Linked DNA regions of Homo sapiens: all the other regions are linked to region 3. The links come from fine-mapping of genetic effects on gene expression. A gene starts in region 3. Each other region holds a variant in brackets. All regions are shown on one strand. Distances are from middle to middle.

Region 1 (4,250 bases), 5.8 kb after region 3:
CTTTCTGAAGGTGGAAAACTAAAGGTCCCAACAAGTCATTGCAGAAAACTTAAAGTCCAGCATCCTTGAGTGATGCTCATCTCTCTAGACCAGAATTGAAGTGGCTTCTTTGAGCCTACAAATGATATATATTTATACACACACACACACACACACACACACATGCAAACAAACACACACATGCATACATATACCATGCAGGGAAGATACATAGATACGGGAAAACATTTTAGACACCTGTTTGGTAAAGGAAAAAATGAGAGGCATGCAGCTGTTACTGAACCATAGCAATTTTGAAATCATGTTAGGCACATATTAAGGGTCCTATTATTTGGCTGGGAAAAAATCTTTCGTTTATTCCTAAATTATGCTCCCTAGAATCTCCTTTCTTCACTGTTCTCCATGGTTACTGATTCCAGCCTCTGAGAGATTCTTCTTTGTCTATCTTTCCCATGACCTTCAGGAAGTGGGATTGGAGATTATGTTTGGTGCTGATAAAAGCTGGGGGACCCAGCACTAATCTTAAAGCTTAAGAAGTCAATACTTTCAGTCCATGCTCATAGAATCCTTAGGGAAACAATTTTCCCCAAACTAACAGACATTGAAATTGTCTTGTTTCTAGTCAATTACATGTGCCAATAACTACATTTGAAGTTTTCTCAATGTGATAATTCTCATGACTGATTTATTTTTTGCTTCCTCATATACACCATTCTAAGCCACTCCCAACCTCCCTGAAGCTATCTGAAATAATATTTTTGAATACTGTTTCCTTAGTCTAATCCTTATATTAAATTGTCTGTTTTTTAACAATAATTTTATTTGATTGTTGTCATTCAGAGCCTTTTTCAATTTATCTTAATTAGGATGCAGAAGCACTCAGGTTTATTAACTCTAAAAGTTATTGATCTCTGGATACATATCCATTTCAATTTCTGCTTCAAAATAAGTCTGTTTTTGTCTGTGCTCATCTCTTTCTTGTAATACATTGCTAAGAAAGGCCAATAGTAGCAAATAGGCACTGTTACTCTCATATCAATCTCTTGTCCTCACGTCCAAAAACTACAGGCTTATAGGCTCATGAGGTGTGTTGTGCCTTTCTATTTAATGTATGAAGTGGTTTTACCATATGTTTTGCCATGAAACAACATGACCTGAACCTTCATTGTTCCAACCTCATCTATCAGCCTCCATGAGGCTATCTGAAATAATATTTGTGAATACTTATTTCCTTAATCTGATCTCTATCCTAAGGCTGCATTATAGGTTCTGGGATCCTTCCCTTTTCAGGGACAAATGGAAAAAAACAACAAGGATCACTTGTGGGATATTGTGATAAAATGGGCCTGAAATTGATTAACATCTTTTCTGCCCACATTCTGTTGGTCACAATTAAGTCATATGGCCATATTTAATTGCAAAGTGTGATAGAAAATGTATTTGTGTGTGTGTGTGTGTGTGTGTGTGTGTGTGCCCAGTGGGAAATGGCAATGGATTTTAGTGCATATGTGCAGTCTCTGTCACACCAAAAAGTACAAAACTAAGTATCTGGGTATGCCAAATTCAGCTATATTGTTAGACGGTATTGCTTAGAGCATTATGAACTATTATTGATAGTTACTGAACATTTAACAGCAAAAGATCTGTTGATAGTATGATATCAATGTGCAGACGATTTAAAAATCTTGAGGCATTCCAACTATCATACACAAATCAGAGGCAATTCATTTACTTAAGCTCATTATTGACTACCTATTATGTATTGGACTTTATGTTATGTGCTATGCAAAGAAAAAGCACAGGATATATCTGTAACCTCAAAAAGCTCTCAGTATTCCAGAAGAGGCAAACATACACACAAGTAACTAAAACACATTTTTTTGTTCTATTATGCAGTTATAAACATTATATAGGAGCACAGAAGAGGGAACTACTATGTCTAGTCTTATTTAAAAACAAAAGAAAACAGAGACAGCAAGAAAATAGTAACTATTAAGAATGCTGTGGTTTGTTTTTGTTTTTGTTTGGTTTTACTATGTAAATGAAGTATCTCATCAAATAAGGAAGACTTTATGAGCAGGGAGTTATCAAAATGCTGAACATGGCTGGACGCGGTGGCTTATGTCTGTAATCTCAGCACTTTGGGAAGCCGAGGCGGGCGGTGACCTGAGGTCAGGCGGGTGGTGACCTGAGGTCAGGAGTTCAAGACCAGCCTGGCCAACATGGTGAAATCCTGTCTCTACTAAAAAATACAAAAATTAGCCAGGCATGGTGGCAGGCGCCTGTAATCCCAGCTACCTGGGAGAGGCTGAGGCAGAAGAATCGCTTGAACCTGGGAGGTGGAGGTTGCAGTGAGCCAAGATTGCGCCATTGTACTCCAGCCTGGGAAACAAGAGTGAGACTTTGTCT[CAA/C]AAAAAAAAAAAAAAAAAAAAGTGCTGAACATGCTGCCCTGAAGAAGCAAAACCCAAAGGTGTTCAAAAAGGTCAGTGGTTTGTCTAATTCAATGTTTTGGGGAAGATATCTTGAAATCTTAAAATCCAGAACAATATTTAAAGTAAGAAAAGAAGCAAAGCCATTTTTTCCTCTTTGGTGGTTGTTATTGTTGACGTTGAAGAGTAACTGGAAAGAATAAGTTAAATGGTCAAAAGTTTGTTTTTGAGATGCCTGCAGTATGGCACTTGGGCAACCTCCCATGATGCTAGATCCCTGTTGGGTCTGACGAAGGCAGACATTCATTAAGCCTCTCACCACCAGTGGTTGGATCCCATCCACTTCATGCAAGTAGACAACCACAAGTATTTTATTCCGTATATCAGTACCAGAAGCTAGGAGCATGGAATGCACACAGTATGCTTTGAACCTCATAATTGTTCCTTGTAATAATAAATTTTTACATTTGAACCTGTGAGTTATCAAGGAAAAAAAAACAAAAAGCCACTTTGGTTAAGGGATAGACTTAAAATAACAGGAATTATGGAAATGGAAAAATACCACTTTTCTTTGTTGGCTCAAGGATTTATGTGTGGGGAAAAAATGATTCAGAGGTGATGGCCTTTCTTGGACATTAACAAACTGTAGAGGAGTTTGCGTCCCTGACAATGGATGGTGTGTAAAATCTAATGGTGGTGGGGGTGGGAGGAAGAGGCTGGATGTGGCAGAAAAAGAGAGGCTGAGCTTAGGCAGTTTTATACTTACAAAGGGAGAAATTGTTTGGATTTTTTTTCTTTTTTGGAAAGAATATCTATTGTTAAAAGTCACTTCAGCCTTTGCTAGAGAGTGAGAATAATTGGGCTTTAAAATATTAATAGAATATGAATATTGATGAAAAGTGAAATATCCTACAAACAACAGGCTTTTTCCAGCCAATTTGTTATACTCAACTCATGCCGATCGGATTCTGAGCTTTATACAAATAAACTTTAGATGGAAAATAAATCAAACATTTAAACATTAGAAATCTCATGACAAAAGAATAGAGAAACAAATAGACATTTCTTTCCTAAGAGTTGAAATTAAAGAAAAAATTCACAGTTGAAATTTCAATACATTAAAAAATTTCTAATGTAAAAACTTATTTTCTGTTGAAATGCAAACCACATATTACAGTGATAGTTACATTACATAGGGGATTGAGTTCATCTCTTAATGCCTCATGCAAATTTATAAGAAAATAATTAGCATAATTAACAATAATTTATTGGTCGATGTTATAGTAAATGTATAAATGAACAAATAAAAATAGCAGATATGCTAATGGAAACTGTTTAATTATGCTAATAATAAGAAAGTATCATAAGTTAAGATGTTATTTCACATATTAAATTATGGTAAACACAGAAAGAGAATGTTTAAAGCTAGCAAGAGTATCATCGGCCTGATTATCCTTCACTGATGATGATGTTATAAATTGGTAAAACTGTTTTAGGATGCAACTTGAAAACGTGTGTATTTGTTGATTGAATAAGCTGAATTTAGTGGATGAAATTGTGAAATGATTGTATTTTTCTTCTGCAACAGCCTGTTAAATTCTGTGTTGAATTTTCCATCCTTGCCCCCCGACAAAAACTTCTGATAAATTAATCAGTAGAGCTGATTACCAGTAGAGCTGATGTACAAAAGCCTAGTCAAAATTAAGAAACAAAACAAAACCAAACCACAAAATCTTTTATTGTCTCATCCTCTTTTAAGCTTCTCCCCTGGACCCCTGATGTGGGACTTGGAAAATTACAGTAAGGAAAGTAGATACTTCA
Region 2 (4,250 bases), 24 kb before region 3:
ATCATGGCTCTGACAAGATTACAGAATGTGTTGCATAATTGTGATATTAAAATTATTTGGTAACTTGAGCTATGAAAACTTGTGTGTGGAGCAAGTTGGTCTCCCTAGTGAGAGTCTGTTTCACCAAAAGCGATCAGAGAATGTTGATCATAGTTACCCAAAAGAACACATGCTACAGGTGGATATGAAATGAGGAATGGACAAAAACAAGCTGCTAGAGCACATAACTTTTCATTATGTATGTTAGGTATTTCTTTCTTTAATAAGGGTGAAATACTGAAGATCTAGTAAAAAGAGACTATTAACCAACAACTAAATTGTCTGGAATCAGGAGGGAGTAATCTCATACTAAGAAATAGTCCTATTCACATGTGAATTAAACATTAAGTTATTTCTTTGCAGGTATTTTGGAAATAAGTAATACATTTTCAATACACCTTTTAAGATATATCTTGTGGTAGAAATAGATTAGTCCTAAAAGGTGTTATTTTTTCCTACCATAGGGGCTGGTTGTTAACAATGCTCATAATATTATAACAAGCATGTTCAGATGATTAATTAATGTTGGAAATTCATCTTTCACCCAGACTCTAAACCAGAGAAACTACTTCCACAGGAAGCCTAATTACCACTCAGATAAACTAGTCAGTAAAAGTGACAGAAGTTTTACACCCCTGCAACTTGGTAAGGTAGAATACAAGCAGATTGCAAAAAAAAAAAAAAAAAAAAAAAAAAGCTGCCCATACTCTCAGAGCAAATCCAGGTGTAAAACCAATTTATGTTTCAAGTGCCTACCCATGCTGATCTAGCCAGGGTTATATAGATAATGTTAAGTGTAATTTATGGTTGAGGCAGATTTGTTTGGCAATACTGAAGGTTTTCTGTGGGAAGTTAGAAAAGATAGAGGCCTCCAAAAGCTATCACGACTTTAGGAAAAGTTTGGTTGATGACAGGTACAGAAGATGTGGTTTTTCACTCTTAGCTAAGAGTGCCTAAGTAGGCATGGCATCCAGGATTAGCTCTATGTGTGGCAGTGTGGTGACAGTCACGTGGTGATATGGTTTGGTTTTGTCCCACCCAAATCTCATCTTGAATTGTAACTCCCACAATTTCCATGTGTTGTGAGAGGAACCTGGTGGGAGGTAAATGAATCGTGGTGGGGGGCGGGGGGGGTCTTTCCCATGCCATTCCCATGATAGTGAATAAGTCTCGCAAGATCTGATGGTTTTATAAAGGGGAGTTTCCCTGCACAAGCTCTCTTCTCTCATCTGCCACCATGTGAGACGTGACTTTCATCTTCTGCCATGATTGTGAGGCCTCCCCAGCCATGTGGAAGGCATACCAAGTCTCGGGGATGTCTTTATCGGCAGTGTGAAAATGGACTAATACACGTGGCAATTCTAGAGGAGCAGAGAATCAAGCTATAGACTTTAGCAGGAAACTACTGGGATGGCAGGAAAATGACTGCAGTTCTGATGGCATTGGGAAGAGAGGGCAAGGAACAAAAGAAGACAAAACTCAGCAAGGCTCAGAAGCTCTAGTACTGGGGCAGCTGTTGAAAACAAAGAGCATCTAACCATGGTGTATGGCACTGGAGGGACAGTTATGAACTGAGATCATGAGGGAAATTCTGTCAAAAACAAAGCACAGATCTTCAGAAATTTCCAGACTCTAGAGATATGGAAAAGAGAGAAGATCATAAGCTGGAATACAGAAAAGGACCCCTCCAGTATCCAGCACTCTGGGGCTGGCAGGCCAGGTAAATCCTGGGAATATAAGAGACCAGGTTGGTTAGAATCTGGTTGGGCAAGAAGGATGACTACCCCAGAAATAATCAAGAGTTGCAGAACTTGTTTCACTCAATAACAAAAATCTGCTGAGTCTTTACTCTAAGCACCATGGTAGGCTCGGAGACGATAAAGATTAAATCAGAAATAATCTCATTCTTCCAGCATG[G/A]GCTACATAGTGATATCCCATCTCTACAAAAATATTTTTAAAAAATGAGTCTAGTAGGCATGGTGGCTTATACCTAGAGTACCAGCTATTCAGAAAACTGAGGCAGGATGATCGCTTGATCCCAGGAGTTTGAGGTTGCAGTGAGCCATGATTGCACCATTGCACTGTAGCCTGGCTGACAGAGCAAGACTGTGTCTCAAGGAAAAAAAAAAAAAAAGAAACATCCTTATTCTTGAGAAGTACATTTAATCTAAAAAGGGAGGTGGCAGAGGCATAAATGTCAAATATCAAAATGCTACAGAGGGGCTACCTAACTTAACTTAGAACAATCAAGGAAGGCTTCCTAGAGGAAATGGCACTTGAATTAAAACTGGAAAGAGGATTAATAAGAGTAAAGTGGCCAGAAGTTGTGACTCATGCCTATAATCCCGGTGCTTTGGAGGGATTACAGGCATGAGCTGAAGGTGAGGATGATCCCTGCAGCTCAGGAGTTTGAGATCAATCTGGGCAACATTGCAAGATCCCATCTCTATGAAAAACAAACAAACAAACAAACAACAACAAAAAAGCAATGTGGTGGTGCATGCCGGTAGTCCCAGTTACTCAGAAGGTTGAGGCCAGAGGATTGCTTGAGCCCAGGAGATTGAGGCTGCAGTGAGCCATGATTGTGCCACTGCACTCAGCCTGGACAACAGAGCAAGACCCTGTCTCAAAAAAGAGAGAAAGAGTAAAGAAGTGAGAAAGTACTGTAGTTAAAAGTGACATAAGCAAAGGAAAAAATATTGCAAATAAATATGTGAGATGTATATGTGTGCTTGTGTCAAGGAATGGGAAAGACTGAAATTTGTTGGGTATTTGGATATAAATTCAAGGCAGGAAGTAGCACACGAAGTGGCATAAACATGAATGGAATATACATAGGGGGAATACCTGAAAGCAATTATTATGTCATGCTAAGGAGCTTGGTTTTATCCTATAGTAGGTGATAGGGAAAGGTTATGATCAAGGTCATTCCTTAGATGTGGCTATTGAAGAGTGTGGAAGACAATTTGAGGTCAACAAGGCCAGAGGCAAAGAGATCAGTTGGGTGGTAGTCCTCAAACTCAAGCTTGGAGCAAAAGAATGAAGATGAAGTTGAAAAATAGTTAAGCAGTTAGGAGGTAGCATAACCAGGACTATGATTCAATGTTCCCTTGAGGGACAAGGCTGCCTTACAATGGGTATCTGGTTTCCAGCTCAGGGAACATTAGTTCCATTGATTGAAATAAAAATGAATGAGGAAGAATGGGTTATAGGGTAGGAAAGATAATGCTGAGATTCTCATAAAAATCACAAAATTGTGCATTGAACAGTTGAATACAAGAGTATAAAACTCAATAAAAAGCTCAACTACGGAAAGCAGATGTGAGTCAATGAGAAATGAATAATTATTTGGGCATAAAGTATTTGTGATGGTTTTTTCAAACTGAAGGTTTTTTGGGGAAGAGGGTAAAACCTCTAGCAGTCCTACCCATATTGAACTTTGCTAGCTACAGTGGAGAGATGAGTAGTTGGATGCTTATTCTACTTGGCAGAGGCGAGGACTGGTGCAAGAGATGAACATCGCAATCATTTAACAATTATAGGTAAACAAATATCGATCAGCAATTATAATTTAACAATTATAGATTGCCCTGGAATATGGATTGATAAAGGAATGTAAATATTATTCTAATTAGAATCCTAAATGATTCCATGCCCCATTGAGTCCTGCAAAAATTGCATGATGATGATTTGGAAGCAAATGTACTTTTCAACATTGGGAGTGTTTAAGAATAAGCTATATAATTGCTGAGCAGGGTTGTTACCATAGAAATCTCTGCTAGAGAACAGAGTAGGTAATTATTTAATGGACCATTAAGTAAGAGCATCATAAATTCCGGACAAATTTTAGGAACTATTATTTTCTGATTCATTGACTTTATATAAAATATCAAAGGTGTAGAGTTAAGTCACATATTTTAAAAATCTAATAAGTCAAATTTAAACAATTGAATAAATCACTATGTGCATTAAAGCAGGCTTGTCTTAGTAAGTAATTACAATAACTTTCAAGATTGTTTTCCGCTATAAGATTTGCTGTTGAATCCCCTGATTAGCACAGAATTTGGTACTTGCTTGGGCACTATATACATGTGCTTTTTTCTTTTTTTCTGTTTGAGACAGGGTCTTTCTCTGCTGCTCAGGCTGGAGTGCAGTGGTGTGATTATGGCTCACTGCAGTCTAAATCTCCTGGGCCAAAGCGATTCTCTCAC
Region 3 (4,250 bases):
CCCAAGTGACACAACTTTTTGTCACAGTTCCTTGGAATTTCTACTGGAGGGTTATATATTATGATATAACACTTTACACAGTGCTTGGTATACAGTAAATCTAGGTAATGGTTTTGGCAAGGATTTTATGTTTATGTTTTGTTTTTACTTCTTCCCAGGAGACTCCTGCTTTCAAGTCAGTTCATTAATCATTATCATTCTCATCTACAGGAGGTAGGAATTAGTATCCTCATTTTGTAAATGAGACTACTGAAGATGAATGAGATTAAATGATTTGCCCAAGGCCTCCATGTTGGACTGTGATTTTGTAAAAAGGCAGAGCAAATTCTGTTAGTTCTACATAGGAGATGGGAGATCACAGCAGGTTGATAGAATCTAGAAGGGGCAAAATGGAGATGAGAACTTAGAAGTAGAAATGGAAACAATGAAGATGTCAAGAAAGGCAAAGTCAAGACAGGTGAGAGCAAGACCCAGCTTTGGGGATTTGGATTGGCAGGGCCAACCCTGCAAACCAGCTCAGCCAGAAGAGGGGCAAGGCACCTTCATTATGGGTCAATGCTTTGGAGTTTGAAGGGGGAAAGTGGAGAGTCCCTGGGAACCTAAGCAACCCAGGAAGAAGAGGGTCAACGATAGCAGATCTCATGGAAAAAGTATTTATGGAAGTATGTTTTTTACCTACTGCCATTGTGAATTGTCTGACAGTTTCACCATGAGGTACAGAGCAGCAGGAAGGCTACTCAGAATCAATCTCATTTCTAGGGTGAAGACTCTTGTATGTCCTGATGGGATGACTTTCATAGAAGAACAGCCTGCAGATAATAATGGGTTACAATAAACTTACTGCTCCTGAAAGAACCAGCAACTAGTTTGTCCTAAAACCAATCTTCCCTTCTGATAAGTCCCAATGCCATGTAACCATTGGATACTTATCATTTGTTATATAATGAGTTACGTTTTCATATATTTATGCTAACTCTCTAACTTGACTATATATTCTACCAAGATAGAAGTAAATATTCCTTCCTCATTTTCCTATGGATATAAATTTATACATTGTACCTATTTAATCAAATACTTGACTGGTTGGATGCCTGCATCAAATGCAGACATGACTCCCCCCAAAATGGGCTTTGTAGGAGCCTATGTGGCAAAGATTAGGGTTCCTGGGAAGCCGAATCTGAGATGAAATTAAGAGCTCGTTATGTTAATTAAGGTGCATCCTTGGATTCAACACCTCTCGAGTTAGGGGAAGGAAGCAGACAGGGCAGAGAAAGAAGTTGAGCTTCCACGGAGACCCATCACAGCTTCAGGGAATCTCATAGAGATTTCTAGAGCTAGAATGACCCTTCAGCATTTTCTCAGGTTGATTTGCAATGAACAGGCCCTTACACTCCCTCCTTGATCAGTTTTTGGATGTGGGCTCCCTGCAAAGGGATGTGTCCTTGGGCAAGGCTGCTCTCTGTAACAGAGGCAATCCTTGGAAGGGCAGCCAGCTTATGGCCATCTGCCAACAGCTGAAGAGCAACAAGTTCTTCAGTGAAGGAAGGCCTGGCCAGTGCAGCACTGGGCTCATTTATATTAGGTAACTCCAGGTAAATGTAAGTGCATTTCTTAGAGGTGGGATGAGGTACTTTGAAGTACCTCACTGAGTTTAAAGGCAAAGGTATTGATACCCACAGTTATATTCATTATTTCTGGTTGAGTTCAATTACACTGAATTTGAGATGGCAGTTTGAAAATTTACTGTCAGTAACTACCAAAAAAAAAAAAAAAGAAAGAGCAGAGCATTGTCTTCGCGATTATGCTGGGACACTTTCAGAGTAAGTCCCCAAGATACAAGGTCCAAAAAAAATACTGATGTGGTACTCAATTGTGGTTCTTTGTAGTCTCTTTCTAAGAGAACTTCAGCTGCATGTTGGATGGAAAACAATATGAAACAAGGGAGAGAGAGAAGAAACAGAGTTTGTTAATATTCTCTGCTAGATTCTGCAGAGGAATCACTTTATTTTGCAGTTGCAACTAGCTTAAGTTATGTAGCTAGAAGTTATGTAGCTAGAAAGCTGACTTGCACACTTAAAGCTAATGAAGAGAAATGCAGGTTTTCCGGGGTAGGTTCTTGGCACTTCTCTGCAAATAGGTAAAAGGGAATGGCAGATATTCAAGCTTAGGGAGCAAGCAGCAAGGACAGAGCCTTCCCCGTCTCTGTGTGTTGAAGTCAGCAGATAGCACACCTGCTGCTGCGTGAGTTCCTTCTGCCAAGCAGAGCAGCACAGCTGCAAGACACCCTGCTTCTGGCTCTGAGCTTTGCTTGTCTTCAGGGATGGAGCCCCTCCCAAGGCAAGTTCAACTGGGTTCTTTGGCAGCCGAAGTCTACACGGACCCTGCAGGGAGCGGTGGAGAAAAGTGAGTTTGACATGCTTGGAAATATTTAGATCTTGGATGTAAACTTCAAGGAAAATATTTACTCTGTTTGTTTTAATACCACAGAGGTTTGGATCCCGGGAATCTTCAGAGTACAAAAGGCTCTTGCCAAGGCACCAATTTAACAATTTGGTCAGTGACAAAAGGGCATCCTGTTTAACTAGTCTGAATTTAAATAGCATGTTTCCAATGTATTAGCATGTCTGTCTCATCTGTTTACAGAACTGTTTTCTTTAACCCCTGAATTTTGTGTTTGGTTTATGAATTTGCACAGAATCAAATACAGTTTTTTAATAGAAAGCAAGCAAAAAAGCGGATCATCACATAGTTGAAAGAGTTGCTACCCGGGCATTGACAATAAACTTCCCACGATTACTTGACCATTCAGAGCAACCAGATCCTTGTAGAAGGCTACAAGCTCTCTTTACTCATGGCTCTTGGTGAAAAATTCCTTACTGTCTCTTTGCTGGTGCTGAGAAATACTGCAGAATGCTAAAGGACTGTCCAATTATATTTTTGGCGAGTGAATTATGATAAAAGAGAAGCCTTTTGTAAATGTGACTTGAAAAGTGGCGTATTTTGTGTCCTCTCTTTGTGTTTTATGCAGAATCCCTACTGCAGGACACAACTTTCAGGACTCACACTGATTTCCCTTTAGTTTTCTGTTTTTGTTAGTCTGCAGCAGAGTGGGAAATAGTTACTGTAAAGGGAAGTCTTAAGAAAACATATCAGTTATGTGCACAATATGTGTACATATATGGAGGAAAAATAGACAAAAAAAGGAAACTGGCATCACAATGCTCTCTCTAAGGGCCTATAAGGGATGAACTGGGACTCCTTCCTGCCTTCGGATAGCACATCAGGCAGAGAAAATGTTAACCATTTTTCAACTCTCAGAAAAGCAGATTTCATGATGTCATACAATGTCCTATTCCACTGTCAGATTGCTTCCCCACTTTGGCAATTAAAAATAATTACACTTTTTTTTTTTTTTTTTTTGCTGTACTGCCAAGCCAATTTCTCCTATACAATTGTTTTTAGACATGGCGAATGAACAGCTGCTTTTCAATTATTGGACACAGTTGTATTTCAATTCTCTTTTAACAGCTGTGAAACAGAATTCCTATTCAGAATTTTATAACAGTAAACCACACAAAAAGACTACTGTTGTCTCTCTGCTAATGGAGATTTTGTGTCCCACTTCTTTTTCAGTACCATTTCCCAGATGCTGTCTATTATCTTTCCTCCATCTTTGCTTGACTGTTACTACCATGTGTATGATTCCAACCAAGTCTGATGTCTGCTGATTAAACTTTCTTTACAATACCTTGGTCATTTTTTCCCTCCGTCAGAAGAGAAAGTTATCCCACTTCTCCTAACCAGTTGACAATTAAGTGAAGAAAGAATTTTAATACCTAAATGGTCATTCTGTCACTACCCACTATTGTCACATTTCTTCTTAGTTGGATATCAGTCATAAGAACAATTAGAGTGGGAAAAAGTCAAACATGTAAAAATTTATATTTGCTAATAAACTAATTTGCGTGGGAGCCATTAGAGAAATATAGACTCATCTGCTTTACAGCAGCTTAGAACAGACAGAGATCTACCAGGCCAGTTAGTATAACTCTAATGCCTTTCATCTTGGAGAAAGGAAAACAAGCTAGAGTGGTTAAGTAATTTTTGTTTTCAGATAAACCATCTCTGTTGTAGCTTAGATATCCTAGAGCTCAATTCCCCAGTTTTAGTAGCTTCCTTATTCTGTTTTTTGGTGTGTTTTTTTTGGACGGAGTCTCGCTCTTGTTGCCCAGGCTGGAGTGCAATGGCTC

Direction of the effects. Positions count from the first base shown, and alleles are read on the strand shown. Sizes are in standard deviations (SD) of each study's normalised expression.
In carriers of allele CAA in region 1, the expression in subcutaneous fat of the gene that starts at base 2,273 in region 3 tends to be lower than with C alone (large effect, 0.85 SD a copy in FUSION).
As copies of G replace A in region 2, the expression in thyroid of the gene that starts at base 2,273 in region 3 goes down (moderate effect, 0.61 SD a copy in GTEx).

Evidence for each region. PIP is the estimated chance that this variant, and not a neighbour inherited with it, causes the effect.
Region 1: its variant is the best candidate, but not a certain one, in a credible set for the expression of LINC01497 in subcutaneous fat (FUSION, PIP 0.82).
Region 2: its variant is the best candidate, but not a certain one, in a credible set for the expression of LINC01497 in thyroid (GTEx, PIP 0.86).

The regions. Positions count from the first base shown.
Region 1 is chr17:69,965,264-69,969,513 of GRCh38, forward strand. The region is part of intron 2 of LINC01497 (long intergenic non-protein coding RNA 1497); the gene reads left to right. Among named protein-coding and RNA genes, the nearest start is that of LINC01497, 5.7 kb to the left of the region's middle. The variant CAA/C (reference allele first, on the strand shown) is at 2,410.
Region 2 is chr17:69,935,314-69,939,563 of GRCh38, forward strand. No RefSeq gene overlaps it. Among named protein-coding and RNA genes, the nearest start is that of LINC01497, 24 kb to the right of the region's middle. The variant G/A (reference allele first, on the strand shown) is at 1,957.
Region 3 is chr17:69,959,435-69,963,684 of GRCh38, forward strand. It overlaps LINC01497 (long intergenic non-protein coding RNA 1497), which reads left to right and starts at 2,273. Exons shown (of 5, transcript NR_110875.1): 1 at 2,273-2,403.